Linked DNA regions of Homo sapiens. The protein of the gene in region 1 purifies or fractionates together with the protein of each later gene. This does not show direct contact. Each region holds a gene or a part of one and is shown in the gene's direction. Other genes may lie near its edges.

Evidence for each region.
Region 2: the proteins of SH3BP5L (region 1) and BICD1 purify together in Homo sapiens (affinity purification with mass spectrometry; 2 studies listed by BioGRID and IntAct, with this or other methods). This does not show direct contact.
Region 3: the proteins of SH3BP5L (region 1) and MIPOL1 purify together in Homo sapiens (affinity purification with mass spectrometry; 2 studies listed by BioGRID and IntAct, with this or other methods). This does not show direct contact.
Region 4: the proteins of SH3BP5L (region 1) and WTAP purify together in Homo sapiens (affinity purification with mass spectrometry; 2 studies listed by BioGRID and IntAct, with this or other methods). This does not show direct contact.
Region 5: the proteins of SH3BP5L (region 1) and THG1L purify together in Homo sapiens (affinity purification with mass spectrometry; 2 studies listed by BioGRID and IntAct, with this or other methods). This does not show direct contact.
Region 6: the proteins of SH3BP5L (region 1) and RNF146 purify together in Homo sapiens (affinity purification with western blotting, with the first as the bait; one study listed by BioGRID). This does not show direct contact.

Annotation. Positions count from the first base shown.
Region 1 is NC_000001.11:248,818,661-248,823,728, reverse strand, and holds part of SH3BP5L (SH3 domain-binding protein 5-like), read left to right. Parts: intron 1-2,467; exon of another isoform or gene 2,468-3,326; intron 3,327-5,068. UniProt on the Homo sapiens protein: Functions as a guanine nucleotide exchange factor (GEF) for RAB11A.
Region 2 is NC_000012.12:32,112,860-32,117,927, forward strand, and holds part of BICD1 (protein bicaudal D homolog 1), read left to right. Parts: intron 1-5,068. UniProt on the Homo sapiens protein: Regulates coat complex coatomer protein I (COPI)-independent Golgi-endoplasmic reticulum transport by recruiting the dynein-dynactin motor complex.
Region 3 is NC_000014.9:37,497,384-37,502,451, forward strand, and holds part of MIPOL1 (mirror-image polydactyly gene 1 protein), read left to right. Parts: intron 1-2,524; coding exon 2,525-2,755; intron 2,756-5,068.
Region 4 is NC_000006.12:159,729,523-159,734,590, forward strand, and holds part of WTAP (pre-mRNA-splicing regulator WTAP), read left to right. Parts: intron 1-1,362; exon of another isoform or gene 1,363-1,443; intron 1,444-2,874; exon of another isoform or gene 2,875-2,909; intron 2,910-5,068. UniProt on the Homo sapiens protein: Associated component of the WMM complex, a complex that mediates N6-methyladenosine (m6A) methylation of RNAs, a modification that plays a role in the efficiency of mRNA splicing and RNA processing.
Region 5 is NC_000005.10:157,732,852-157,737,919, forward strand, and holds part of THG1L (probable tRNA(His) guanylyltransferase), read left to right. Parts: intron 1-16; coding exon 17-193; intron 194-1,724; coding exon 1,725-1,894; intron 1,895-2,994; coding exon 2,995-3,083; intron 3,084-5,035; coding exon 5,036-5,068. UniProt on the Homo sapiens protein: Adds a GMP to the 5'-end of tRNA(His) after transcription and RNase P cleavage. This step is essential for proper recognition of the tRNA and for the fidelity of protein synthesis.
Region 6 is NC_000006.12:127,272,218-127,277,285, forward strand, and holds part of RNF146 (E3 ubiquitin-protein ligase RNF146), read left to right. Parts: intron 1-5,068. UniProt on the Homo sapiens protein: E3 ubiquitin-protein ligase that specifically binds poly-ADP-ribosylated (PARsylated) proteins and mediates their ubiquitination and subsequent degradation. May regulate many important biological processes, such as cell survival and DNA damage response.

The DNA of each region.
Region 1 (5,068 bases):
TGAGTTGGGAAGAAATCAAAGCCAGTCCTGGCATTCTTCCTTCACTCTCTGTGTGGGTTCCTGGGATATGTGTGTGTGTGTGGGTTCCTCTTCTACTGTGTCCATGCTTATAATGGAGCAGTGGTGAGCCATTTGTTTCTGGCATGAGTCAGTAATTTATTTCTGCTCTGCCTGACATTGCATTGAAAACAGCCAATTTTTCTTGCTATTTCTACAGATTTATCATCCTCTGAGGAAATCAGTTGTAGTGAAAAAAGTCTTGGGCTGAGTTTCACGCTACCTCCAACCCCATGATTTATGATTTTTATGGAAGTTTCTTTACGTTTCTGAGCCTCAGTTTCTTCATCTGTAAAGTGAGCAGTTGGTCTAGCTGATTTGCACAACTCATTCTTGCTCTGCTCTGACACAAGTCTACAGTTCTTTCTCAAACTCTTTTTGCTTGTTCCTTGGTGATAGTTTGTAGATAGCACTTTGGGAAAGAGCTGTCTCTCTGTTGCTTGTGGAGGAGGGCTGTGTAATGTGCATTATATGCCTCCCTACAGCCTTCCTTGCCCTGCTCCAGAGAAGGCTTCTGCAGAGGAGAATCCACTGTGGTCTCTTTACTTGGCCTCTACTACTCCTATGTATTTTTCCAGTGTCTGCATAGGCACATGGTAGTAGTAGGAAGAGTCATGCTTGCATTGTGCTGTCTAATAGGGTGGACTAGCTGCATGTGGCTATTTAAACACAATCAATTAAAATTAACATGTAAAAATGCAGTTCCTCGGCCAGGCATGGTGGCTCACACCTGTAATCCCAGCATGTTGGGAGGCCGAGGCAGGTGGATCACCTGAGGTCAGGAGTTTGAGACCAGCCTGGCCAACATGGTGAAAACCCGTCTCTACTAAAAATAAAAAAAGCTAGCCAGGTGTTGTGGCGGGTGCCTGTAATCCCAGCTACTTGGGGGGTTGAGGCAGGAGAATTGCTTGAACCCAGGAGGCGGAGGTTGCAGTGAGCTGAGATCTGCCACTGCACTCTAGCCTGGGTGACAAGAGCGAAACTCCGTCTCAGAAAAAAAAAAAAAAGCAGTTCCTCAATGTTATACTGACAGTGCATAAATAGAATATTCTGTCATCACTGACTCTTCTATCAGATGAGCTCTATGAGAGTTGGAGTACACTGAGGTAGCGTAAGACTTACTTTGCCTCCAGTGAACTTGTGATGTCGCTGGTGCAGGAAAGGTAAAGCAGACCCTCGTCTCTCTTGCTAAACTGCACAACACGTTGTGGAATGTTGTGGGTTGTATAGGGAGGAAAGGTCTAGTAATAGCTTCCCTCATTTGATGACACAGGTGTGGGTACGCCAGTGCTCTGACCTCAGCAGGGAGTCAGTGTCTTCTTGCTGTGTGAGAGAGGCAGCCTGGCTTGAGGGGCACCCTTCACGGAGGAGGCCGGTGGCATTTTGCCCTTCTGTGCTTGGGCTTTCAAGATGAGGAGGAGATTGGGGTGTTTGTCTTTCGAGGTCCCTTTGAGTGTTGACAGTTCACTAGACCATGCACATTGCTCTGATCATGTGTTTCAGTGCTTTAGGTGGGTGTTCATTTCTCTGGATTCTCAGTGCATTTACTGGGTTTCCATCCACCGTCCATAAAAAGCCACCAGGGAGCTTCAAAAATACCCTTACCTGAGCCTTTCCAGACATGTGGATTCTCTTAGTCTGGGTGGGGTGAGAAGGGATTCTGATGTTACAGTCAGAGCCAAATCCACTGGGCCAGGTATATCCCAAAGGTAGAGCGCCTGTTTCGGTATTTTCTGAGGCTCCCGGAAATGGCTGTCCTTCGGATGAGGCCCTGTCTGACCTGGGGCTGGGGCTCCTTTGCAGGCAGGCAGCTCCATGGCCATTTATGGTGGGATTCCTCTGGAAGTTAGAAGGAAGTCAGCTGGTGCCTACCTGGAGCGTGCTGTCCCTCCAGGGAAGGCTGCTGGCTGTGTCTCCTTGTCATGATCTTAGTGGAGTTCTTTTGAGTCCTCCAGGCTCATCCTCAGCTTTCCGAGAGGGTTCCAGTGGAGGGAAGAGGAAAGGAGCGTGGATCTAGGATGGACCTGGGTCTGTTCTGTGACTTTCTCAGCCCCCTCTTAGTGGTTGCATTCTTTCCTCAGATGTGAGTGCTCTCGTTTACCTGCTCCTTTCCAAACTCTCTAGGGTGACTTTGCAACCTCTGTGACCTCATCTAGAAGTATGGGTTTAGCTTTCACAGGACAGTCATCACCCTGGCCCCAGTTACCATTAGTTTGAGTCTTTTGATGGTCTGCACTAGGTGGGGTGGGAGCATCTGCAGCCTGAGTCCCCATGCCTTTGATTCAGTGTCCTGGCATCCTGGGAATCTGACTGCTGTGCCCTGGGAAGGTCACCCTCCCTGCTGGCTGCTGGCTCACTGATGGATGATGCACGTTGATTCAGACTTTGTCCTCCCCAAATTCCGTTTCAGCTGAGTGCCAGGAGTCCCTGGTGAAGCAGGCCAAATGGAATGTGTTGCTGACTGCCCAAAACTGTCCCAGGTCCTCAGTGGATTCCTGCTCAGCCTTTCCCTGGGTGTCGCCTAGGTGGGCTATCCCCCTCCCTCCTGTGGTGACCTTGCCCTCCAGGCTGCTTTGCTCCCCAGGCATCTTCTTGTCCTGTTAGGGAGAGCTTTGTGACTCTGAGGGGACAGATCCCATCAGCAGATGGCTTTCTGTAAATTGCTGGAGGTGCCACTGGGAAGCTAGTTCCCATATAGAAAGATAATGCCCACTCCTGCCACTTGCCAATAGCAACAGCTCTTCTTGTCCTTTTAACAGTAGTAACAACTTATGCTGAGCCATCCAATCCATTGATGATCTTGTCAGGAGCTGGAAGTTGATGACTGGAAGCATTTGAGGCCATGGAATCCAGTGGGGATCCCGTCTTGGACTTTGATTTGCCACATGAACATTGCAGGGTGGCCTTTACCAACTGACCCCCCACAATCAATGTTTGTTGCATTTCCAATCCCTGTCCTTTTCCTACGTGGGCTGTGGTTTTCCTAGATTACAGCACTTCTTTCTTTACTGAGATGTCCTTCCAGTGGTGTCCTCATTCCCAGGAGGGTGGTCACAGTGGAAGGAAAGTGAGATCAAAGGTCGGTCCTGGATCCAGACCCAAGTCTGTCACTAATTTTCCGCCTGGTTGTTTCTCATCTATCAAATGCAAAGTTGCTGAGAAAGAATATTCCAGCAGGAGGTGCTGAAAGAACTGGTCACTCGTCTCCCAGATAGCCTAAAAGCCCCTGTAGGCCTCGTCAAGCCCCAGGAAGCTGGGCCCCCAGGGAGGTAGGTTGCCTTTCAGCTTGACAGACATTGCCTTTTTAGGGCCTGTTGGGGTGATCGTGTCAGTTGCTGGTGATGTCTCTGTTCGGAAGGCACTGTGAAACTTGGAGTTCCATGTGTCTGGTAGTGTTGATGCTGACCCTATGCCTCCTCTGGGGCCCTGAGCTGTGTTGGCTGCCTGTTCTTCCAGAATGGTTGTTATTTTATGGACACTGGGTTGTGGGACACTGTAGATGCATCTACCCAAATACAACAACTTCTAGACCTTCGCCACCCAACACAGGAGCCACATGCCACTGTCTAGGTTGAGATGTGTCACAAGAGTCAAGTGCATACGGATTGTGAAGACTTAGTTTAAAAAAGTAAAAGTATGGATAATAATATTATTTTATGTTGATCACATGTTGAAATATATTTTGTATATATTGGGTTAAATGTATTTTTATAATTTCACTCTTTTTTTAAATTTTTTTACTTTTAAAAAATGTGGCTTCTAGAATTAAAAATTCCATGTGCAGCTCCTGTTACGTTTCTGTTGAATAAGTCTCTTCGAGAAAATTTAGAGCAAGCTTTTCCAACCCGTGGCCTGTGGGCCGCATGCAGCCCAGGATGGCTTTGAACACGGCCCAATGCAAATTTGTAAACTTTTCTTAAAACATTATGAGATTTTTTTTTGTGATTTTTTTTTTTTTTTTTTTTTTTTGAGACTGAGTCTTGCTCCTTCACCCAGGCTGGAGTGCAGTGGCACAATCTCAGACCACTGCAACTTCCGCCTCCCAGATTCAGGTGATTCTCCTGCCTCAGCCGTCCCAGTAGCTGGGACTACAGGTGTGTGCCACCATACCCAGCTATTTTTTTGTATTTTAGTAGAGATGGGCTTTGCATCATGTTGCCCAGGCTGTTCTCAAACTCCTGAGCTCAGGCAATCTTCCCACCTCGGCCTCCTGAAGTGCTAGGATTACAGGTGTGAGCCACTGCGCCTGCCCACGATTTTTTTTTTTTTTTTTAAGCTCATCAGCTGTAGTTAGTGTTAGTGTATTTTATGTGTGGCCCAGGACAGTTCTTCTTCCAGTGTGTCCCAGGGAAGCAAAAAGATTGGACATCCCTAGTTTAGAGCCAGATTTGTGGCCCTCCTTAGGCAGGGTCTACACTGTTGTAGGTAGGTGTGTGCATTTTCATATCCTCATTCCTCGTTCCATTACAGGTTTCTACCTTTGTGTTCTTCCTGTTACTGTAATTAACATGTCAAACCATTTCCTGTATTCTTACCTGCTGACCCAGATCTTTTCAGGATCAAGGCAGGGGATGGGGGGAGGATAGAAGAGGTAGAAGGGACTAAAAGGAAGATTGTGCATGTCAGCCTGACTCCCTCACTGGGTTGCTGAAAGGCCCGAATGAGGTGAGTGGGGGCCAACATCACGGCCATATGAGTGGGAAGTGATTGTGGTGTCACTGCCAAGTGCAAGTCATGGGTCTGGGCAGCAGGCACATGCTGGGCTGGGTCTCTCTGGCCTGTCCAGCCTCCTGTCCAGAGACAGCAGGGGCTGGTGAAGGCAAATCCTATAGCTAGGCACCAGGTATTTCCTGGCACAAGGCCCTTGGCACAGACCAGCACTGCTCCTCAGTAGTGTCCTTAGCTCACCAGGGGCTCTGGGAACTTTTGTGTTTTCTCGGGCAAGGGAGGATGACTTGAGGCCAGTACCCCTCTCAGCTCTCTTCCATTTCATGGAAAGCCCTGGATGGTT
Region 2 (5,068 bases), on another chromosome or scaffold:
AGCATTGACTTAGGTACAAGGCTCCATTTAGAACTAGGTTCTTTACAAGCCTCACCTCTAATTCATGCAGCAATCCTTACTCAAGGTAGGTGTTTCTTGCATTATACAGAAGAGGAAACTGGGTCTTAGAGAGGTTTAGGTCTCTTCCCAGGGCCACAAAACTAAACGATGAAACTTGGAAGAAGCCCACTTTTTTTTCACTGCATCATACTACCTTGAATATGAAATATCTCTGCCAAGTCTACAAGTGCAGTATAGAAGGTTATGGTGATGGTCATAGTGGGTGGATTGAGGCTGTGTGGTGGGACAGACAGTGGCAGTAGGGATCGTGAGGAGGGGGCACGTCTAAGAGCTATTTGGGAGGTAGGGTGGAACAGGCATTGGATGTTACTATATGTGGAAAGTGAGGAAGACAGTGGAGCTGAGAATCTTCTCAGGCTGGATAGGAGGTGGTTCTATTTACAAAGGAAGGTATTATGGGGCAGAGCAGTTTTAGAGGGTGAAATTGATGCTCAAGTTACATGAGTTTCTGTTGTTTTTGACACAGGGTTTCTCTCTGTCACCCAGGCTGGAGTGCAGTGGTGCTGTTACAGCTCACCGCAACCTTAACTAACCATCCTGGCTCAAGTGATCCTCCCATCTCAGCCTCCCAAGGAGCTGGGAATACAGACCCATGCCACCATGCCTGGCTAATTTTTTTTTGAGACTGAGTCTCCCTCTGTTTCCCCAGCTGGAGTGCAGTGGCATGATCTCAGCCCACTGCAACCTTTGCCTCCTGGGTTCAAGTGATTCTCCTGCCTCAGCCTCCCAAGTAACTGGGACTACAGGAGCATACCACCATGCTTGGGTAATTTTTTTTTTTTTTTTTGAGCTGGAATCTCACTCTATCACCCAGGCTGGAGTGCAGTGGTCTGATCTCAGCTCACTGCAACCTCCACCTCCCAGGTTCAAGCGATTCTCCTGCCTCAGCCTCCTGAATAGGTGGGACTACAGGTGCCTGCCACCATGCCTGAATAATTTTTTTTTTTCCAAGACAGAATCTCGCTCTGTCGCCTAGGCTGGAGTGCAGTGGCGCAATCTCGGCTTACTGCAACCTCTGCCTCCCGGGTTCAAGTGATTCTCCTGCGTCAGCCACCTGTAGATGGGATTATAGGCGCGCGCCACCACGCCTGGCTAGTTTTTGTATTTTTTTTAGTAGAGACAGGGTTTCACCATGTTGGCCAGAGTGGTCTTGATCTTCTGACCTCGTGATCCACCCACCTTGGCCTCCGAAAGTGCTGGGATTATAGGCATGAGCCACCGCGCCCAGCCTAATTTTTGTACTTTTAGTAGAGAGAAGATTTCAAACATGTTGCCCAGGCTGGTCTGAAATTCCTGAGCTCGAGCGATCTGCCTGCCTTGCCCTCGTAAAGTGTGGAGATTACAGGCATGAGCCATTGTGCCCAGCCACATAAGTCCTTTTAATTCATGTTTTCTTTGCTGGGGAAGCGTACATTGCATGATGGATTCAGATCCTCAACTTTCTTTTTTTTCTTTTTTTGAGATGGGGTCTCATTTTGTCACCTAGGCTGGAGTACAGTGGTGTGATCGTGGCTTACTGCAGCCTTGACCTCCTGGGCTCAAGCAATCCTCATGCCTCAGCCCCCAAGTAGCTGGGACTACAGGTGCACACCGCCATGCCTGACTAATTTTTGTATTTTTTTTGTAGACACAGGGTTTTGCCATGTAAGCCAGGTTGGTCTAGAACTCTTGAGCTAAGGACAGTCCGCCTGTTTTGGCCTCCCAAAGTGCTAGGATTACAGGCTAACTTTCAATTTAATAAAAAAAATTAATTTGTGCAATTGGTTGTTATTTTATAGAAGCCTAATTTCTAGAATATGGGATATAAACAATTTAATAATGTTTTCACCAGTTAGTTTGATTGCTTTCTAAATTAGGAAAAATGAAAACAAATAAACGATGGGCAAAAAAGCTGACTGGGGACAGTAAGGTCTAAGAAGGCAGCCTAAGTGGAAAATTAGCCCTTACTCACCATTTAGGGTTATGGGGGCTGGGAGCAACAGTCCTCACTGCTCACTGACTAATCTTTATCAATCTTATTTAATCTTTATTGAAGATGCATTAGCATTTTTAATTTAAGTGGGTTTTTTTCCTCTTTTCTTTTGGTGGGGGGTGTGGGCGGCGGGGGAGTTTCAATATGTTGACCAGGCTGGTCTTGAACTCCTGGCCTCAAGCGATTCTCCCTCCTCAGCCTCCCAAAGTGCTGGGATTACAGGCATGAGCCATTGCACCCAGCCTTTTCTATTTTTCATTTCAAGAGTTTGCTTTTTAAGAATTAAAATTGTGTAATTATGACAGTTTTTATTGCAGTACTCCAAGCTAGAGAAAAGCATATATAAATTAATAGTTTTCCCTTCTTCTCCCACAGTTCTGTCTCTGTTGTTAACACTTTGCTGAGTATTCTTCTGTACTTGTTTTAAATGTCTTTAAACATATAGGCAGGGTTTTTGTGTGTGTGGTGTTTTTGGTTTTTTTTTTTTTGCTGTTTTTCTTCCTTTGTTTTTATAAAAACAGGATCTTGCAGCCTGGTGTTTTAAATTTAGTAGTATGTCCTTTCAAAAGGCAGGTATTTACGAGACAAAGCTGCATTTTTAAAGCACTGGTGAAGTGTGAAGAAAATGAGACCGATTAGGGAAGAAAACCCGAGAAGCTCAGAGTTTGGGTGACCCTGGGGATGTGGGAAGGTGGTGAAAATGGTACCCTGAGGGTAGCATGGATGGTAAGTGAAAGAGGAAAAGGTGTAGGTTTGCATAAAAGAAACTGATGGAATTTGGATGCCCAATAGCAGACCCAGGGGAATGATACCAGGGGAAAAGATGGACAGTTTTGTGGGTAAATTAGCAGTGATTTTGATTCCTTGTCTTGTTAGCTGCTGATGGAGATACGTGTATCAGCATAATACCTGGCTAGTTTCCATGGCCGGCAAGAGCCAGTCCTGCAGTGTGACCACATCCTGTCCATTCTGGGTCTTGGTGGCAAGCCAGGATGATTCAGGCAGTTGGGCTTTATTACGTTATCCCTTCTTTGCCCTCTGAAAGCTGAGTTTTGAAATAGTTAGGATCTTATACAACATCTCAGATTCAGCATGCTGTGCAGGAGGTGGGGAGAAAAGGGTACAAAAGAGGAAAATGTTCAGTGAAGGTGTTATTACAATGGAGGGGAATATGAAAGTGGAAATTGATACCTTTTCCTCTTGGGATTTAATTAAGTCTATAAAATTAAGGTGTTGCAATACATAATGTCTATGATTTTTTTTTACCAGCTCTAAATCTCTGAGATGGCTGTGTTTTAGAGCTGCATGTTCTGCTTATTTACTGCCTGTCCTTTACATTTCAAATTCATTCAATATTTTTCCAAAGTACAGAATAGTTTTGCCTAGTTGCAGTAATTTTCACCTAGACTTCAGGGATCTTCCATCAACTCTTTTATGTATTTTTTCTCCTTTGTTTTTCCACTCTGGTCACTCAGTTCTAGCCAAGATAGTCCACCTTATTTTAGCACTTGTACTATGTCTCTGTCTCTGTCTGTCTGTCTGTCTGTCTGTCTCTCTCTCTCTCTCTCTCTCTCTCTCTTTCTCTCTCTCTCTCTCTCTATATATATATATATATATGTAATTTTGAGATGGAGTCTCACTCTGTCGCTCTGACTGAAGTACAGTGGTGCGATTACAGCCCACTGCAGCCTTGACCTCACAGGTTCAAGTAATCCTCCCACCTCAGCCTCCAGAGTAGCTGGGACCACAGGTGCACACCACTATGCTGGCTATTTTTTTTTTTTTTAACCTGATTTTGTTTTTACTGGAGGCTCAGGTGGCCCAACTAATTTTTAGAAATTATTATTTGCAGAGATGAGGTTTTGTTATGTTGCTCAGGCTGGTCTTGAACTTCTGGGCTCAAGTGATTCTCCCACCTCAGCCTCCCAAAGTGTTGGGATTGTAGGTGTGAACTACTGTGCCTGGCCTTCTACATTTTTTTTTTAACCATTTCATAGTTCCCTTTTTCTTTGAACACTTGGTCCAAACTCACTTTTCTTCTGGATTCATATTTTCTGATCTCACCTATTATGTTATAGAACTGATATGTTACGTTTGTTTTCATTGATGCGTCTGTACTTGGCTTCAGAGAGCAGAACAAGGCCCTGTGAGTCACTGGGAGCCAGATTTTGGATCAAAATAAATCACTTTCTGACAAGTGTAGTTGTCTAGTAATGGAATGAGGCAGTCTTCTTAGGAAGTAATGAATTCCCTGTCACCAAAAGGGAGAAGCTAGTGAGCCACTTGCTGAGAATACTCTATGGGGAGTTGTCCTTAGGAAGGGGTATATCTAGAATGATCTCTAAGGTTCATTCTTATTCGGATTTCTTTGATTTTTATCATTCCAGGTGTTCCAAATAATTTGATAAGTTTATGTTTTTTATACTTTTCCCACCACCAGAGCAGTGTTTCCAACATGGTTAAATTGTTCTGCTTTAATGTTTGGCATTTCACACTATTTGATGACTGTAAACATTTGGAATGTTTTCACAGTGTCTCAAAACTTTATTTTGATTTATGTTTTGCTTTATTTTCAGAAGAAAACTAATGGGTAATATAAAGCTTTAAGATGAGTGTATCTCTAAATTTGGAGAGCTTTCAGTGAAACTGTACATTTTGAAGCTACGTGGTTGCATTGAGGGAGGTCTACAGCCTCCAGAATCTTCTTTTTCACACACACGGGCACATGTGCATGTGCATGACTTTATATTTTGTCATTTACGCTTAGTCATATATATATATATATACACAAATATATATACACACACACACACACACACACACATATATATATATATATATATATATTTTTTTTTAAGACCATATTTCGCTCTCGTTGTCCAGGCTGGAGTGCAATGGCATGATCTCAGCTCACCGCAACCTCCACCTCCCAGTTTCAAGCAATTCTCCTGCCTCAGGCTCCCGAGTAGCTGGGATTACAGGCATGCACCACCATGCCCAGCTAATTTTGTATTT
Region 3 (5,068 bases), on another chromosome or scaffold:
GAAGCTGTCTCACTGAGTTTTAAATTAGGCCATATATGTAAAGTTAAAATATAAGGGAATGGAGTAGGCTAAGATTTTTTAAACAGTTTACAAAAAGCATTGCCATTAAAGAAACAATGATAAATTGAACTTTATTTAAATTGAGAACTTACCTTCATCAAAAGACAGCATTAAGAGTCAGGCATGGTGGCATATGCCCATAGTCCGAGCTACTCAGCAGGCTGAGGCAGGAGGACTGTTTGAGCCCAGGAGTTCAAGGTCAGCCTGGAAAACATAGTGAGAACTTGTCTCAACCAATCAATAATATACACATACATAAGACAATACGAAGAGAATGAAACATCACTGCATCCATATTACAATAACTAAAGTTAAAAGCATTTGACAGTGCCATTCTGAGGGAGGATATAAAGCAATTGAAACTCATATTTTGCTGATGGGAGTACAAATTGGTACAACTAATTTGGAAGACTATTAGCAGCATCTAAATCTAAATCAGCATCTATTATCATTGTACTAAATCTGAAAATAATGCATACCCTTTGGAGAAATTCTACTTTACACATGAATACCTAGGTCCATCAAAAGACATGTACAGGAATATCCATAGCAACAACTGTGGACAGTTAAATAAGTTACGGCATATGTATATAACAGAATATTTTATAGCAATAAAAAGCAATGAATTATATGCAACAGCAAGGTGAACTTCACTTACCAATTGTTGAGGAAAATAAGCCAGACAAAAAGTTTAAAAATAGGCAATTTACATTTTGATAAAGGTTGGATTAGTACTTACCTTTTGGGGAGGGGAAAAAATGGGAGGGAACACTGGGGGGTCTTCTAGATTTCTGCATTTGTTCTGTATTTTGTTCTTCACATTTTTTCAAGCTGAATACTTTGTATATATGCACTTTGTGTAATTTAAAACGTAATTAACAATTAAAATATAACTAATGTTTTAAATATAAAGAACATAAACAAGTACCTTTTTTAAGGTTTAGCTTTTAGTTTGTTTCTTCTTTTCTTTCTTTCTTTCTTGCATCTTTCATGGAGATAAAGAGGGTGAGCTGAAGAAAATTGGAACTTGGAACAGACAAGAATGCAGAAAGTGAGAGGACACAGAAAAAATAGTAAAATGGGCAAGAGACAGCCTTTAAGCATATGGGTTGGTAGAAAAATCTGAGAAGAAATGAAGTAGGGATAGTTAGATTAATAACAATGTGCAAACCATGAAAAAAGGTATTTTTTGCACTCTACAAATGTGGCACTACACACTATTCTAATTTTCTGTGTAGTAACCAGTTGACCAGCGCTTAGTAACAGTCCGTATTCTTAGGGGTTTGAATCCTGAAGTGGTTTCATTTGGTATGCTGACTGTCCTTGTTTCATATCCATCCTAGTTCTATGGGACGCCTTCTCCAAAATAAGCATACTGTAAAGGCTTATAGATAACTTAAACTAAAAGAGGAAATTTATAATTACTTTGAACAGTTTTAAAGAAAGTATCAGGCTAGATATTAGGACAATGCCAAAGTTCACTAACTAGCTTTTTGCAGGTTTAATAATGATATTGCTTTCCTTCCCATTATCAATCTATATTATATAGTTAAGTTGTTTTACTTCAAATGTCTCCAATCGACATTTCCTTTGTATGCATATACTGAAATGATATTTAATAAAAAAGAACATCTCCTGTGTGGAGTTTAAATTTCTCTTATTAAATATTTATATTTTCAAAATGTCTTTATTTAATTGAGTGAGGTGCTTGGTGCCATTTCAAAATAACCTCAGGTGGTAGGTGTAATGACATATCAAAGATTTGACCTTTAGCATTTTAGGATTCTATTTGTCTGCATTTTCTTCTGCATTCATTTAGTCTTAATTTATATGCTATTTCTCTGTATGACTTAATGAGTAGATGTATTCGTTAAGAGATTCATTAGCCAAAAAAAAATATACACATGTATATATGAATACATTTTATTTCTGTGCAATCTGACTAGTGATTTTAAATTCATTTATATCTCAACTGTGACAAGTAGAAGATCAAGTAGAAAATGCTATGTAGAAGGCTGGTCAGTGTTTGCATAAACCTCATCCATTCTCATTAAGTGCTTGGCAGAATAGACCCTCGATCTCCTAAACCAATGCCCATTCTCTTCTCACTTCTTTCAGCTTATTACATTCTTTTATTTGCCTAGAGATACTTTATTTTCCAGTTCTCTGCTATTCCTTTTAAAGAAAATTGAATGTAATATTTACACTGATATAATTAAATTAACATCTTGCAGCATCTTTTTGTATGCTTTGGTAGCATAATCATTTGTCTGGGTAGCTTTCAGCCTAGAAGCAGAGAAATTATCAATTATAATGTTGTGACATAAAAATTATTTTCATTTGCTCATTTAAGTATTTATTGATTTTTAGAACTAGAGATTCTAAATGGAGGTTTTTGTTAAATAGATCATAGATCACTCAGTTTACATTACTTATCTTTAAATTTTTTTTAATATTTTCTCAGTTTACACAAATCTTTATCTCAAGAAGAAAATCTGAAGGATCAGTTTAACTATACCCTTAGTACATATGAAGAAGCTTTAAAAAACAGAGAGAACATTGTTTCCATCACTCAACAACAAAATGAGGAACTGGCTACTCAACTGCAACAAGCTCTGACAGAGCGAGCAAATATGGAATTACAACTTCAACATGCCAGAGAGGCCTCCCAAGTGGCCAATGAAAAAGTTCAAAAGTAAGTTAAATGATCTTGTAATAATACTTCAAACACATGAAACAAAACAAAACACTTTCTTTTGGGAACTAAACAATATGTAGTTATTGATCATGTTAATAGTTTAGAACAAAAGTAGAATTAACCCAGTGAACTTTTTTAGATTGGATACCATATGCCATATTTGGGGTCAAAAAAGTCATTTTCTTGGGAACCATTGTTACCCTGTAGGGCAAACCATTTTTATTTAATAACTGATCATCAGTTCATGGAGGCCATACTATTTAAATCATTTCACAGTCACAAGTTAATAGGCAAAGTTATTAGCAAGGGGAAGAGGCAGTCAAGTTACCACCTGAACTAATTTAGCTTTACAATAATCCTGCTTGAGTTGAGATCATCTGTGACATTGCAACCTGAGACTTGTAGGTGCATAAAAACCAGTAGGGTGAAATTAATTTTCTTGTGTTGTTCTTCTGAAGTATTCAATACTGCTTTTCACAGTGCATAATTATATATGTTTATTTTGAATGATCTTTGCATTTTTATTAGAATTTAAATAAAGCTGCATAATCTGTCAGTCCTTTTGACAGCTAGCAAAATGTTAACAAACAGCTTACCAGGCAAAGAAGTCACTTGTTAATTTAATGGACTTGAACATTGTAGCAGAATTTTCTGAGACACCTTTAATGTAATAGAACCACTGTAATAGAATACATAGAACACATGTAATAGAATATATTTTAACCTTCTTTATGTATTGTTAACAGCACTACAGCATTCACATATCTAGTCACCTTCAATTTCAAAGATATACCTTTTTCCTTAACAATTTTTATGTCAGTTTTACACTGTGAAGCAGTGCTCACATCAAGGTTTCTTACTTCCCACTACTTCTTATTTGAAAATGTCATCTTGACCATTTCCTCAATATCCCTGAAGTTATATTTTGATTAATAGCCAAAGTTATGTAAGTCAGTAGTTTTAAATTAGACCATTTTAAAACAGTTTAGAAATTGTGCATTTTAATCTTTACTAGCCATGTACCTTGAAACTTTTGATTTATGTAGGTATTATATATATTTGTAAGTTTAAAGATGGGGTTTATATTCAGTCAGAAACTATATGCAGTTATTCACAATGTACGTTAATATTCTAAGAACACTATGATGTATAGGTAGATCTCATTTCATTATAAATCACAATCAGTAACTTTTGACAGGATCTGATTTGGCTCTGTTTGCTTAAAGTCTACAAATACATACAAATTTCAAATTTTTCTTTATATATAATCCATTAATTTCTATACATGACCAAAATTCCCTAAAACAGTGGTTCCCACAGACCAATTCTATTTTCAAAAAATCTTCGGATGTGTTATCAACCTTTTATTTTTTAGATCTCATCAACTATCATCATCATTTCATTTAAAAAAACAATTTTTATACACCAAGAAGTAGAAATAATATCATCTCAGATAATGTTTTAAATTAAATAACTTTACTGAATGGCCAAGATAACCAAATAGGAACAGCTCTAGTCTGCAGCTCCCAGTGTTGATCGACACAGAAGATGGGTGATTTCTGTATTTCCACCTGAGATACCTGGTTCATCTCGTTGGGACTGGTTGGACAGTGCATGCAGCCCACCGAGGGTGAGCCAAAGCAGGGCAGGGTGTCACCTCACCTGGGAAGCACAAGGTGTCGGGGGATTTCTTTTTCCTAGCCAAGGGAAGCCGTGACAGACTGTACCTGGAAAATCGGTACACTCCCACCCAAATACTGTGCTTTTCCCACAGTCTTACCAACCTGCAGACCAGGAGATTCTCTCTCATGCCTGGCTTGGTGGGTCCCACGCCCATGGAGCATGGCTCACTGCTAGCATGGCAGTCTGAGATCCACCTGTGAGGCTGCAGCCTGGCAGGGGGAGGGGCGTCTGCCATTGCTGAGGCTTGAAGGTAAACAGAGTGGCTGGGCAGCTCAAACTGGGTGGAGCCCACCGCAGCTCAGCAAGGCCTACTGCCTCTATGGACTCCATCTCTGAGGGCAGGACATAGCTGAACAAAAGGCAGCAGACAACTTCTGCAGACTTAAACGTCCCTGTCTGACAGCTCTGAAGAGGGAAGTGGTTATCTCAGCATGGCATTTGAGCTCTGAGAAGGGACAGACTGCCTCCTCAAGTGGGTCCCTGACACCCCTGTAGTCTAACTGGGAGACACCTCCCAGTAGGGGCCGACAGACACCTCATACAAGCGAGTGCCCCTCTAGGACGAAGCTTCCAGAGGAAGGATCAGGCAGCAATATTTGCTCTTCTGCAATATGTGCAGTTCTACAG
Region 4 (5,068 bases), on another chromosome or scaffold:
GTGCACATTGAAGTTGCCTTTTATGTTCATATTATGTTCATATTTTATTTGAAAAATCTATAGCATTTTTATTGTGCTGAAAGCATTAATATTTGCAGCACTTTGTGAGACAGGCAAAATTATCTTTTTGCTGACTTGGAAACTGCAAGAGTTAAAAGACTTGCTTGGAATCACACATGGCAGATAGAGGATAAGGAAAAGATGGCCTTTCAGTTCCTCATCAGTACCTTGCTACTACAGTGTCTGCAGATTGGTGTCTTACATTCAGCTATGATTTGTTCGCCAAGGTACCGTGTCTTCTTACTGAAGTTGTTTTGGCTGGCGCTTGCCTCCGTTCAGAGGGAACTGAGTTACCTAACTTTATGATGCTAAGAGCCAGGAAGGTACTGGGATCTGGGATGCTAGGCACCTAACCAGTCTAGACTGAACTCCATACTAAGCTGTTTTTCTGTGTTAAGGCATCAAGAGTAGATGGTGGTCCTGATTTTCTGAGATATATTATCTCTGAATTATCTACATAAATAACTGAAACTTTTATGTAATTTTAAAACTAGTCAATCATGTTACCACCCTTTTGAGGGGCACCAAATTTGAGACCCTTACCCCCAATTTATTAATTAATAGCTGTTTTAATCACCTAATAGCTGATCACCTAATGACTAACAGTCATTTTCATCCTGGAAAATGGGAACTAACTTTGACTTTGAAAAGTGCTGTTATTAAATGTGTGATTCATAAGAACTGAACATATTTTCTTTATTATTTTCCTTCAGGATTCAACTTTAATTGACTCCAAATGATGTTATGGTCATTCTGTTTTTCTGATACGAGAATAGATTGTTCTGAGAACCTAGAATATTCATTGCCTTTATGAATCTAGAATTGACTTTAAATTTAGGTTATTGTGTTTGTCATTTGCGCTAAAAAAAAAATTGCCCTGGGGAATACCAAACTTCTCGGTACATTCGTGTGGTGTGAAAGTCAAAATTGCCAATTAGGTTCTATTTTGACCAAATAGTTGAATGTTGTAGACAGTTGTAAATTTTGAACCTGTTCTAATTTGCCTTTTGCCAGATGGCGCATTTAACTTTGTGGCATATCATCGACTTTCAAGGAAAGATTTACTTTTCATCAGATTAAAGTTGAGGAAGGATTTTCTTTCTAAATACTGAGGCTCTGAATTTCCCAAGTTGGATACCCCAGACAGCTAGAGTGATCTTAAAAGTGACTCTGAGAGTTGACTTAGGAAGTGTAGACATTTATCCAAAATCTGTATTTACTCCTGACTTACATTACAAATACAGAGTTTTATTTTTAAAGAAAATTTCAATAAAAAGCACCATTTAATTAAAATCTACTCACCATCAAACTTTTTAAAAAGAACATAAGCCAATGTCAGGAGTTGGAGACCAGCCTGGCCAACATAGTGAAACGCTGTCTCTACTAGAAAAAAAAAAGAAATACAAAAATTAGCTGGGCATGGTGGTGCGTGCCTGTAGTTCCAGCTCCTTGGGAGGCTGAGGCAGTAGAATCGCTTGAACCCGGGAGGCGGAGGTTGCAGTGAGCCCAGATCATGCCCGTGCACTCCAGCCTGGGCAACAGAGAGAGACTACGTCTCAAAAAAAAGAAAAAAAGAAAAGAAATTTCAATAATTGCAGGCTGGGCATGGTGGCTCACAACTGTAGTCCCAGCACTTTTGGAGGCCCAAGCAGGAGGATTCCTGAGCCCAGGAGTTCAAGACCAGCCTGGGCAACATAGCAAGACCTCATCTCTACTACCAAGAAAAAAAAAACAAATTAGCTGGGCGTGGTGGTTCATGCCTGTGATCCCAGCTACAAAGGAGGCTGAGGCAAGAGGATCAGTTGAGCCCAAGAGATGGAGGCTGCAGTGAGCTGTGATCGAGTCACTGCACTCCAGCCTGGGCGACAGAGTGAGACTCTGTCTCAAAAAAAGAGAGGAAAAAAAGAAAATTTAAGTAACTTCTGTTTAGAATCCTAAATATTGGAGATGCCAAAGAATTCTGCAGTAAGTGTTAGAAACAGTCGGGAGGACAGTATGATTATTATCCTCAACCTGTGGATTATCTCTTCAGGTTTTTCAAGAAACACTGAGTCTGTGTTTTTGATGGGGAGAAGAAACTATTAATTAAATGCCCATTTTGTGCCAGTTACCATGCTAAAGATTAATGTCTGTCTTCAGAAATAGCACAGTATTTGGGCCCTGGTTGTGGTAATTCTTTTTGAGATGGGGAAACTGAGGTGCAGAGATTTTGCTACTTTTGTATTTGCAAAGTTGACAACCTGTTTCAGAATACCAAGGTTATCAGAACTTTCTTCATGTGTTTCTCAGTCCTTTTAATGCCCTTTAAAAACAGATTATCATCTCATTTTTTGCTAAGCTTACTGTTAATTTTATTTTAGTGGAATAAGAATATGGATACCTGTCTTTAAGAAGAGAGTAAGCAAGTAAACCTAGGGAAAGTATCAGGTTGTAGAACCACATACCGATGATCCTTGCCAAAATCCTGGCATAGGAATTTGAACCCTGGTGTATGAAAAGTCTGCCCTTTGCATACTCAGGTTTCGCATCCCGTGAATGCTGTATTTTTGATCCGAGTACTGTATTTTTTAATCTGAGTTTGATTGAAAAAAATCCAAATATAAATGGACCCATGCAGCTAAAACCTGGGTTGGTCAAGGACCAACTATAATAACTTTTATAAGCTGGAATTTATATTGAACAGCATCCATGATACTTTAGTATTACAACTAAAGTTGTACATACTGAGTAGGTAGGATGCCTTAGTAACTAGATAAAAGGTATACCACCTAGCCATAGTGATAAATATAGCTGTTTTCAAACTGTCATTCACAGATCTCTACCACAGTACCTGTTACGTGAAGTTCCTGGTTGGTTCTCAAAATTTTATGTTCGTATATACATAGATACAGATACTGATATACCGGTTAAATATGTACAGCTCAAATAGCTAAAATTGTCTTTAAGATTTTTTAAATTAAAAATATTATTGGCCGGGCGCAGTAGCTTACACCTGTAATCCCAACACTTTGGGAGGCCAAAGCAGGTGGATTACCTGAGGTGAGGAGTTCGAGACCAGCCTGGTCAACATGGTGAAACTAAAAATACAAAAATTAGCCGGGCGTGGTGGCAGGCACCTGTAATCTCAGCTACTCTGGAGGCTGAGGCAGGAGAATCGCTTGAATCCAGGCGGTGGAGGTTGCAGTGAGCCGAGATCGCGCCATTGCACTCCAGCCTGGGCAACAGAGACCGGGCGCAGGGGGAGGGGGAGTGTCTCTGTCTGCTTCTTTCTCTCTCTCTCTCTCTCTCTCTGTATATATATATAGTGTGTGTGTGTGTGTGTGTGTGTGTGTGTGTAAAATTGATATTTAGCTCCAGACAAATGGGAAATTACAAGGAAATGCCAGATTTGATATCTGGGTTCTAAGACTTTGCAGCCTAATGCATGTGTCATGCTAAAATAGAAGTAGTTAGACATGTGGAGTTAAATATGGTGATGGTTTCTGAGATGATTAAAATGACTGCCACCAGGTTAAGGTAGTTACAAAGCAGCTTTCTGTAATGGCAGCAGAGATAATAAACTGGGCAACAAGGGAGGAACCAATTTAAAGAAAAAAAGAATAATATACATTTTATATCATAGTAATATGGTTTATGTCTTCATAGGACAGAGTGACTTGCTCAGTGAAACAGACTGTATACAATTAGCTCAGAAACAAATACTGAGGTTTTTATCTGTTTGCTGTATCCCTTGAGAAAGATTAAAGAGGGAAGGCAGGGTGCAGTGGCTCACGCCTGTAATGCCAGCACTTTGGGAGGCCAAGGCAGTTGGATTGCTTGCGCCCAGGAGTTCGAGACCAGCCTGGGCAGCATGGCGAAACCCTGTCTCTACCAAAAAAAATTACAAAAAATTAACTGGGTGTGGTGGCACATGCCTGTAGTCCCAGGTACTCGGGAGGCTGAGGTGGGAGGATCACTTGAGCCTGGGAGGTCAAGATTGCAGTGAGCCATCATCGCACCACTGCACTGTGGTCTAGGTGACAGAGCGAGACTGTCTCAAAAAAAAAAAAAAGCCCAGCACGCTGGCTCATGCCTGTAGTCCCAGCACTTGGGAGGCTGAGGTGGGCAGATCACCTGAGGTCGGGATTTCCAGACCACCCTGACCAACATGGAGAAACCCCGTCTCTACTAAAAATACAAGGAAGTTAGCCGGGCGTGGTGGCGCATGCCTGTAATCCCAGCTACTTGGGAGGCTGAGGCAGGAGAATTGCTTGAACCCAGGAGGCGGAGGTTGCGGTGAGCCGAGATCGCGCCGTTGCACTCCACCCCGGGCAACAAGAGCGAAACTCCATCTCCAAAAAAAAAGATTAAACAGAGAAAGAAGCAAGCCAGTAATCTAAGATCAATTTATGATTTTTCCTCTAAATTCTGCTTTCTTCAACACAATTTACTTAATCTGAAAACCAGGGTTTAATAACAGTATGATTAGAATGTTTCATTTATAAAGTGGAGTTGAGATTGTACGTAGTATAAAACATGCTGTTGGAAGATTATCTCCTTTTGAGGAATCTCAAAATCAAGTGGGAGAAATCAAGTAGTCTTGGTGTGTGTGTGTTTTGTTTGTTTGTTTTAATGAGAGACAGGGTCTTACCACATTGCCCGGGCTCGGTTCAAACTCCTAGGCTCAAGCAGCTCTCCTGCCTCAGCCTCCCAAAGTGCTGGGATTACAAGTGTGAGCCACCACACCAGCCTCAAGTAGCTTTCGAGATGATGCCACAGCACTCCAGCCTGGCAACAGAGTGAGACTCCATCTCAAAAAAAAAAAAAAAAATTCAGTTTAACATACCAAGCTTTTGGTCAAATTTCTAGTAGTTTAGAATTTATAATAAGTATGGGTAATTAAAATAAACCATAAACACTTTAAAGTAAGGGAAGATTCATGAGTATACTATTAGAAATAATAACTAGGGCTGGGCGTGATCCTTCCACAGGTAGTTCTAGCTACTTGGGAGGCTGAGATGAGAGTATG
Region 5 (5,068 bases), on another chromosome or scaffold:
TTTTTCCCCTGTGAAGGTTTGCTGAGAAGCACAACTTTGCAAAACCCAATGACAGCCGTGCTCTCCAGCTGATGACCAAATGTGCGCAGACTGTGATGGAAGAACTAGAGGATATTGTGATCGCGTATGGACAGAGTGATGAGTACAGCTTTGTGTTCAAGCGGAAAACCAATTGGTTTAAAAGAAGAGCCAGGTAATTCCATGACCTAACTCCTTTCTTCAGAATATTTCCTCCCAGCATCTGGTTTTCTGTTTATCTTAATCGCAGACTTACAGGCTACAGATGATGTCTGCAGTATTTGTAACTGCAGAGTACATGTATATTTCCTGTTTAGATTGTTGTACTTCCATCTGATAGCCGAGCATTCTGTGTGCCTCTTTTATCTGATTCTTTCCCCACATGCCCCATAAGATTGGTTTCTAGACTGACCTGGCATTGAACATTAAGATTAGAAACAGAGACTATAAGAATGTAATATTAACAATTCATAGGTTGGCTTTAGCCAGTGATAGTCTCTACGTGCATTGCATTACACTGTTCCTCAAGACAGATCTCATTATAAAATACACAAATCTGATATTTGATTTGGCAGTATTTTGAAACGCTGTATGGGAAACAAATCATATAATGAATTGGTTTTTTCTTTCTTTCTTTTTTTAATAGAGGTGGGGTCTCTCTGTGTTGCCCAGGCTGGTCTCAAACTCCTGGCCTCAAGCAGTTCTCCTGTCTTGGCCTCTCGAAGTGCTAGGATTACAGACATGAGCCACCACGCCCAGCCTGAATTGGCATTTTTTTTACAACAATGGTTTCTCTCCTTTCATGACTGTAAACACAAACAGATCAGGCGTGGTGGCTCACGCCTGTAATCCCAACACTTTGAGAGGGTAAGGGAGAGGATTACTTGAGCCCAGAGGTTTGAGACCAGCCTGGGCAAGATGGTGAGACCTCATCTCTACAAAAAATTTAAAAATTAGCCGGGCTCAGTGGCATGTGCCTATAGTCACAGCTACTAAGGAGGTTGAGGCAGGAGGATCCATTGAGCCAAGGAATTTGAGGCAGCAGTGAGCTATGATTGTGCCAATCCACCCCAGCCTGAGGGACAGAGAGATTCCATCTTTTAAAAAATAAAATAAAATTTAAAAATACCCCTTGAATCATAAATTCGTATCACATCCTGTAGGGAAAGGTTTAGTATCAGTAGGTTACTTAATAGAACTGGAAGGAGAGGCAGGCTGCATTTAAAATACATAACTGGCCAGGTGTGATGACTCACGCCTGTAATCCCAGCACTTTGGGAGGCTGAGGCAGGCAGATGACTTGAGGTCAGAAGTTTGAGACTAGCCTGGCCAACATGGTGAAACCCCATCTCTACTGAAAATACAAAAATTAGCTGGGCGTAGTGGCCTGCACCTGTAATCCCAGCTACTCGGGAGTCTGAGGCAGGAGAATCACTTGAACCCAGGAGGCAGAAGTTGCAGTGAGCCAAGATGGTGCCATTGCACTCCAGCCCAGGCAACAGAGCAAGACTCTGTCCTAAAAAAAGAAAAAAAAATACAGAACCAAGGTATTAAAATAGTGTTTCTTAGCCAAATGCATTTTATCTCCTGGCTTTCTGGGCAGTTTGTGTACTCTCTGTGGTACCCACAGGTCTTATCATGGTGTTGAACTAATTCCGTGTATTTTTCTTTTTCTTACTCCACCCAATGTGCGTTACATTTTCAAGTAAGTTCATGACTCACGTGGCCTCCCAGTTTGCCTCCAGCTATGTGTTTTATTGGCGGGATTACTTTGAGGACCAGCCCCTTCTGTATCCCCCAGGCTTTGACGGAAGAGTCGTGGTGTATCCCAGCAACCAGACTTTAAAGGACTACCTCAGCTGGCGACAAGCAGATTGTGAGTGGCACCAAATAAACACATGTAGTTAAACCACCAATTCCATGTCTTACAGGTGTTGATCTGATACAGGATTGGCTCACATATACTTTGTTTCAACATATACGTTGTACAGAATGCAGTATTTAAATATTTTTTCAATTAGTTAAAAGTATTTGAAAAATTAAATTTTACGTAAAAACTCCTTATCTCTATTTTTTTTTTTTTTTAAGACAGAGTTTCGCTCTTGTTGCCCAGGCTGGAATGCAGTGGTGTCATCTTGGCTCACTGCAACCTCCACCTCCTGGGTTCATGGGATTCTTCTGCCTCAGCCTCCCGAGTAGCTGGGATTACAGGCATGTGCCACCACGCCCGGCTGATTCTGTATTTTTTAGTAGAAATGGGGTTTCTCCATGTTGGTCAGGCTGGTCTTGAACTCCTGACCTCAGGTGATCCACCCGCCTTGGCCTCCCAAAGTGCTGGGATTATAGGCGTGAGCCACCACGCCCAGCCGCCTTATCTCTATTTTTTAAAAAAATCAGATGTGGCAATACTGGATCTGCATTCTTACTTAGTACTAGACAAAGCCTGTTCAGTGGCAGCTACCTTTACACACACACACACACACAAATGCCAGTGTGCCATAGTCTCTGCCATTCCCTGTTGTTCCTCTGGGGTCACCCACTGCTTTACACATTTATGTTCATGCTGGCCTCAGTGGGTATTTGAATTGTGACCCTTGCCTTATGTGACTGTGATGATGTTTGTGAGGCTTTTACTTGCTTGTTCTAGTTTGAATTTTCCAGAAGAACTGGAAAAGAGATTGAAATAATATAAATCAAATAACTTCTAAAGTATTCCTAGGATTAACACACAAGTTAACAGATTTGTATAATGTGTAACTGAAATGACCAAATAAAACTGTTGTTAGGGATGAAGTTTTTTCCCTACTGCTCCTTCCCTCCATGTTCCGTGTGTAGGACTTCGGTCAAGTCACTGAATGTCTCTGAGATCTCTTTACTATGAAAGAGGAGAGGGTCAGGGCTCTAGTATTCCTTGAAGAATGAATATTCAATAAAGATTTTATGTATATAAACATTACTATTTTGTTCTCCTCACAGGTCACATCAATAATCTTTATAATACAGTTTTCTGGGCACTTATACAACAATCTGGACTAACACCAGTACAAGCCCAAGGGAGATTACAGGTATAAAGATCTTACTACATTAATACTTAACTGGGGACAGTTCGCTGTAGGCTCTCCCATAACTTTTTTTTTGTTAAATTTACATTTCTTTCTTTTAAGATCCCTGTACAGCTTTGTTTTGAAAGGATATAAAAATCATAATAGGAGCAGCTCTGCTGCCTGCTTGGTCTGTAATCCTGGATGAATTACTGCTTCTCCCTGAGCCTTTGTGTTCTTAGTGGAAAATGGAATTGACGGCACTGGCTCTGCATTCCCACGTGCTAACACTTGCCTGAAGCCGTGTATGACTGTGTATGACTGCCGTCTTCAGCACTGACTTTTTTTTTTTTTTTTGAGACACAGTTTCACTCTGTTGCCCAGGCTGCAGTACAGTGGTGTGATCTCAGCTGATTGCAACCTCCACCTCCTGTGCTCAAGCGATTCTCGTGCCTCAGCCTCCCAAGTAGCTGGGATTACAGGTGCATGCCACCACACCCAGCTAATTTTTGTATTTTTAGTAGAGACAGGGTTTCACCCCGTTGGCCAGGCTGGTCTTGAACTCCTGACCTGAAGTGATCTGCCTGCCTGGGCCTCCCAGAGTGCTGGGATTACAGGCGTGAGCCAGTGAGCCACCACACCTGGCCAGCACTGAATTTTTGTCAGTCCCACCACGCCTCTTCCCTCATTGCCATTTTCCCTGCTGGGCACCTGTAGTTTCTTGGGTTTATGACCTCTGTGTATAGGAAGAGTTCGTGCTGAGTTTGTTACTTTCATAAATGTCATAATAACTACTCACATCATGCTTCTGTGTAATTTTATCCTTTCTGCCTCAGTTCTTTATAGGTAAAATGTAGAAAATAGTAGTTTCTACCTCATAGGTTTATGGTGAGAATTAAATGGCATGATGCACGTAAAACACAGAATCGTATGAAGCACATTGTAAGTGCTTAATAAATACTGGTTTTTGTTATAACAGTGCTACTTGTAGGATGACTAACTGTGAAGTGAGGTAATGTGTTGTAACAGATCTTTTATTTGTATTTTATTTTATCTATTTATTTATTTTTTGAGATGGGTTCTTGCTATTTTCCCCAGGCTGGTCTTGAACTCCTGGGCTCCAGCAGTCCGCCCACCTCAGCCTCCCAAGTAGCTGGGATTACAGGTGCATGCCACTGTGCCCAGCTGTAACAGTTACTAATACAATGCCTGGTACATTATGTTTGCTCAATAAATGGTTGTCATTTTTAATAATAGTAATGATAGAGATTTTTATATAGCAATAATAGGAAAACTGGGGCCTGGTGTGGTGGTTCACGCATGTAATCCCAGCACTCTGAGGAGGCCAAGGTAGGTGGATCACCTGACGTCAGGAGTTCAAGACCAGCCTGGCCAACATGGTGAGACCGCTTCTCTACAAAAATTAGCTGGGTGTGCTGGCACACACCTGTAATCCCAGCGACTCAGGAGGCTGAGGCATGAGAATCGCTTGAACCTGGGAGGTGGCAGTTGCAGTGAGCTGAGATTGCACCACTGCACTCCAACCTGGGCAACAGAGTGAGACTTTGTCTAAAAAAAAAAAAGGCATACTGGTAGGTATATCCAGGTTTGGAAGAGTCAAGTTCAGATTTCAATTCTTCGTAGAAGAATAAGGACAACCTTTTAACCTTGGGGAATTTATATAACCTTTCTAAGTTTTACTGGACCAAATACATAATATGTATTCAGTTAGTATTAATTCTCCCCACTCCCTTTCAGTCTTGACTTGTGAAGCCAGTGTTTGGTATAGGAGAGAATTTTATCTAAGTAAGATCATAATTGCCCTTAAGATGAAAATTTACTAATAACTATAAGATGTTTGATAAAATCCTTCCACTTCTTGATTGTGGAAATTTAGGTTGTGGGTCGAATGGATAGTAGCACTAGGGGAGAAAGAAGACATGCAGAGCTTTTAATATCTATTTTTATTTTCTCAGGGAACTCTTGCAGCAGACAAGAATGAGATTTTG
Region 6 (5,068 bases), on another chromosome or scaffold:
TATGGATTTGGTAGTGTTTCACTAACTAATATATGTGAATCACTTGGAGATCTGGTTCTGTAGGTCTAGGGTGGCACTTAGGATTTTCATTTGTGAAGAGCTCCCAGGTAGTGCTGATAGTACTAGTTGGGAATCCCAGTTTGTTTGTATAGCTAGGATCTAGAGCATTATGTTAGTTTTAATTCATTTTCCTTCCCCAGCATTTATCCAGTTAGTCTGCACTTTGAAAAAATTATTCATGAGGATATAGAAATTGAAAAAGTCACCAAAGCATGCAAGATTTACTAAAATTATATGAACTGTGGACTCTTAGGGCTGCTGTAGGATTCCTGTTTACATCTGTTAAGTTTTTTGTCTGCTTTTATCTGGAGTCACTTTTATTGGTTGCATAAGATGGCTAAATCTCAGCCAAGAAGAACCTGGTTGTGTTGTTCTACGCAAATGTATTTTTGAAAGATAATGCATAATGAGAGGTGAAATAAAAGAATGCTCAAAGACAATAAGAGGGCAGTACAATTGACCCTTGAGCAACATGGGGTTAAGGGTGCCAACCCCTTGCACAATTGAAAATCTGAGTATAAGTTTTGACTTCCCCAAAATTTAACTACTAATAGCCTACTGTAAAGTCAGTTAACACGTTGTTTGTTATATGCATTACATACTATATTCTTACAATAAGCTAAAGGAAAATAAATTCCTAAGGAAGAAAAAATACATTTACAGTACTGCATTTACCGATACTGTGTTTATGTTACCTGTTTATAAGGTGTCTGTCTGAAATGATGGGTAACTGCAGCTGCAGACCCATCTAGGGTGTGTACCAGGTAATTTAACTTCTTGTAATGGCATGACTTCTTGGCTTCTTGGGAGCACTTCTAGCATCACTAGTGGCACTTCACATGGGTCCCATGGTGTTATTCAAGGTTTATGGTATTGTACTAAACATGATGAAAAATACACAAGAACAAGAGATTACATTTTACTCCAATACATGCAGAGATGATTAGTGTCCACAGCATTTTAAGTGGAAATTCATAATAGCAACAGGAAATTATTACAGTATGTACTACAATTAATTTTATACAGCTATGATTCATACTGCATCTTTACATTTGTTTAAATTTCTTGTACCACCTCAAGTGGCACCATATGTGTCTGTGTTTACTAAGTTTTGATACACTTTAACTTCTTATAATTTCTCTATATTTTATAATACTAAATGATAAAATAGACTATATATGTTTTATGCATTCATAATATACCTAATTTTTTCTTTTCCTTTTTTTGATGTTTCAAGACTACATGATTCATCTGCAAGTTTTTTCAAATTGTCACAAATCTCCAAAAAAATTTCCAACATATTTATTGAAAAAACTGTATGTATATAAGTCAACTTGTTCATTTCCAACCTGTGTTGTTGAAAGGTCAGCTGTATGAGGTTATCGTCAAAGATCTTTAAAGAAAGAAATGACATCATCAATATTTTGAAAATTAGAGAAAGCCATTTCTAAAGGAATCCTAGAAATGACTTCAGGCCAGAATTAGAAAAAAAAAAATTGAAGAAATAGGCTAAATAAATATGTCTTTGGCTGTGTTCTTTTGAAAATGGCATTAATGTATAGAAAGATACTCGAATGTGAGTTATGGTCACTGATACATTCTTTTGTTTACTGCTGAACATAACTGGACTAGAGGAGTGTAATGAGGGCAAGGATGTTCTTTCTGTTGAAGGAGAAAGTTTATATTGATGGAAAGTCATTATTCATAGATACTTTGCTGTTATTTCAGTACTATTAAGTAAATAGTTCTCTGCTCCTGGGTTTGTGTGTGTGTGTGTTTTCTTTATAAGGGGCTTTTTCAAATAATTTTGCTATTGATAAGTTACTTGAATTTAATCATTAGTCTTCAAATAAGGAAAGCAGAATGAGAGAATGCATCTCCTTGAATTAACCAGATTTTTTTTTAGTACCTTTGTTCTAGTGGATATGTAGCAAAGCTTTTACTTTAATATTTGTGGCTATAGCTTTATTTCAGCTATGTGAAATAGTTTTATAGGAAAGATCACAGCTTATTTGGGTGTTCAAATATGGGTTCTTTAGAGGATTTTTTTGTACTTATTTTGAAGCTGCTTTGTTTCAGTTAACTTAGATTCCTTTAAGAATCAACTTTTGTTTCAGAGATAAAATATTTATGGATAAGACCTAAGTAAAGTAAGTGAATAGAGAGGAATAAATTAGATTGGTTACAGATAATGTGTAAATGCATTCAGGAGATAAGGAGAATTAGAAACAAGGACATTTTTTGTGTATTTCTTAGGAATAAAATGGTACCTTCTACACATCTCAATTATTAAAGTACAAATAGTGATTGAACGAAATTTTTAGAAGAAATGTTTTAATTGAATCTTCACACTAGAGGTTTTACCATTCAATCAATTAGGTTCTGAGAAGGATGGATTGGTACATCTTAAAAGACTTGTAAGATAGCGAAGGATAGGCAGTGCTAATGACCAACAGCAACACTCAGCAGGACTTTGTGGACCAAAAAACTTCAAGTTAGAATTGTGGGTAAAGGCTGGGCATGGTGGCCCTCACCTGTAATCCCAACACTTTGGGAGCCTGTGGTAGGAGCATCACATGAGGCCAGGAGTTTGAGGTTTAAGTTACCTGCAGTCATACCACTGGACTCCTGCCTGGTTAACAGACGCTGTCTCTTAAAACAAAACAAAACAAAAGAATTGTGGGTAAAGTAAGAGCAAATTGACTTTTGAGTGATGGTCCGAAAACCTTTGTGATGGGTAAAGGGTAGAATGTCTGTATAATTTTTCTGAACTGGAACACTTGTTGGGAGACCAAGGGCAAACTGGATAGATGCTGGGCTGACCTATGTGGTCATCCTAGTGAAGAATCATAAGCTTTATTGGGGAAAGAGCTTTGTGAAGCTGTTTTGGCTGTTCAGAAACCCATCTTGGTTTATGCTTAGATTTTTATCTCCATTTTGGAGAATTCATTGACAATGAACAATAGCTGGGTAAATGATTTGCTTGCCAAAAGATACAAAGATGGGTTGAATTTTATATTTGTAAATGTAGGAACTCCTTTAGATTTTAAGTTATATAAAGCAAGGATTAGAACTTAGATATTTTTATGTATCTTACAGATTCCAGCTTGAGTTCACAATTAGAACTCAAGTGTTGTGTTATTTGAATAAATCTAATCCTTTGATATTCTGTTCCTCACAATAGTTACTTTTAGGAGTTGATTTTTCATTCATCCAAAAAATATCAGTTCAACAAAAATTGATTGACAATTTACTAGCTATTTAAAGATATAAAAATCTCCCTATCTTCAGGGGATTCATGATTTCACAGAAGAGTCAGACTTCACAAATGAATTGAAATTAGTGCATGTGATAAATTCCGTAATAGAAAAACATACAAAACATAGAGGAGAGAACAGTTAACTTTCTGGAGGTAGTCAGAGAAAATGGTAGAGATAACCATTTCTGTGTAATATATTAAAGAACAAATAGGCATTCATAAGCTGTAAAAGGGAATAGATCGTACCAGGCAGGAGGAAATACAGAGCTACAAAGGGAGGTTTGCAGGACTATGAGTAATTTTATACAACTAGATTATTAATCTATGGGTGGTTGTTGAAGATAAAAAAGACTAGAGACTAATTATTTACAGTTTAGATCTTTAAAACCTTTTAATGTTGTCCTAAGGAGCTTTGTCTTTATTGTGTAGGCTGAGGACCCAATATTGTGCTTCACATATGGAAGAAACCTGGTCCATTTTGCCTTTTAAATATATCAGTCAGTCCTAGCTACTTGGGAGGCTGAGATGGGAGGATCGCTTGAGCCAAGCAGTTTGAGGTTTTAGTGAGCTATGATCATGCCACAGCATTCTAGCCTGGGAAACAGACTGTAGAGTGAGTGTATGTGTGTGTGTGTGAGAGAGTGAGAGAGAGAGAATCTCACTCAAAGGCTTAATAAATGAGGGTGATACTGACACAAGATAATCAGGCTGAACAATAGTCCAGGTGAGAGTTATGTAGGTTTAAACTAGGGCACTAGCAATGGGTAGAGAGTACAGGATAGATTCCAAAGGGATTAGGAATAAAAGTTGACAGAATTTATGGTGTGGTTGGTTGGGGTGGGGGAGCAGGGGGCTGTGTGGTGAGAGAAAGGACTTTCTCTTTTTCTCCATGAACACAAAGTAGTTAAGACATGAAACCTGAGATGTCATATTGTAAGAATTATGCAGAAATGGGGGTTTGTAAAATGTGTGTATATGAGATAAAGATATGAGGGGGCCAAGGGTTCTGTTAAGAAGTAAAAAAGATTGGGTTCCAGAATGGGCAGGAAAGGAAATGAGATCAGGAACTGGATAAAGGAAAGGAGATGGTCAAGAGATGGTAGGTCCCCATGAAATTGAAGAGCAGGTGTGGGAATGAGTAGGCTGGAAGAACCAGAGCTTGTGATCTGAGAGTCGGATTAAGATTTCAGAGAGGCAGCAGTTTAGGTGACAACTAGCTTTAAATGTGATTATAATATTTGGTTGCTGGAGAGTAGATTAATTTCTTCAAATTTAGGATTTAAGGAACTGAAAATTGAGGATGGTGTTTCTCAGATTGTATTTGAAGGACTAAAGCATGAGTACCACCTGGGGTGAGATTCCTAGGTTTAAACCTATGTCTACTGGCCTAGAATTTCTAAGGAAAGGGGCTGAGAATATGTATTTCTAACAAGCAATTTCAGTGATTCTGATGAATAGAAGTTGGGACAAGTTTAAGAACCTGTGCAATAGGTGTTGGATGGTTCATTTTCAAGGCTATTTAAATAGGCTGATAGTCATGTCAGGAGTTAGGATGAAGAGGATGATCAGTAGTGAAAAGATGACATTAATCCCTTACAGGTGGTGAGAGAGCAGTTTTAGGGGATTATGGGGTATGTTAAAGTCAGTGTGATAGAGACTTGAAAGAAAAAGTAATGATGTTGGAGCAGTAAATTGTCTCCTCCTGTCCTATATATAGGGAGTGTATGAAAATGTGCAGTTTTCTGTTTG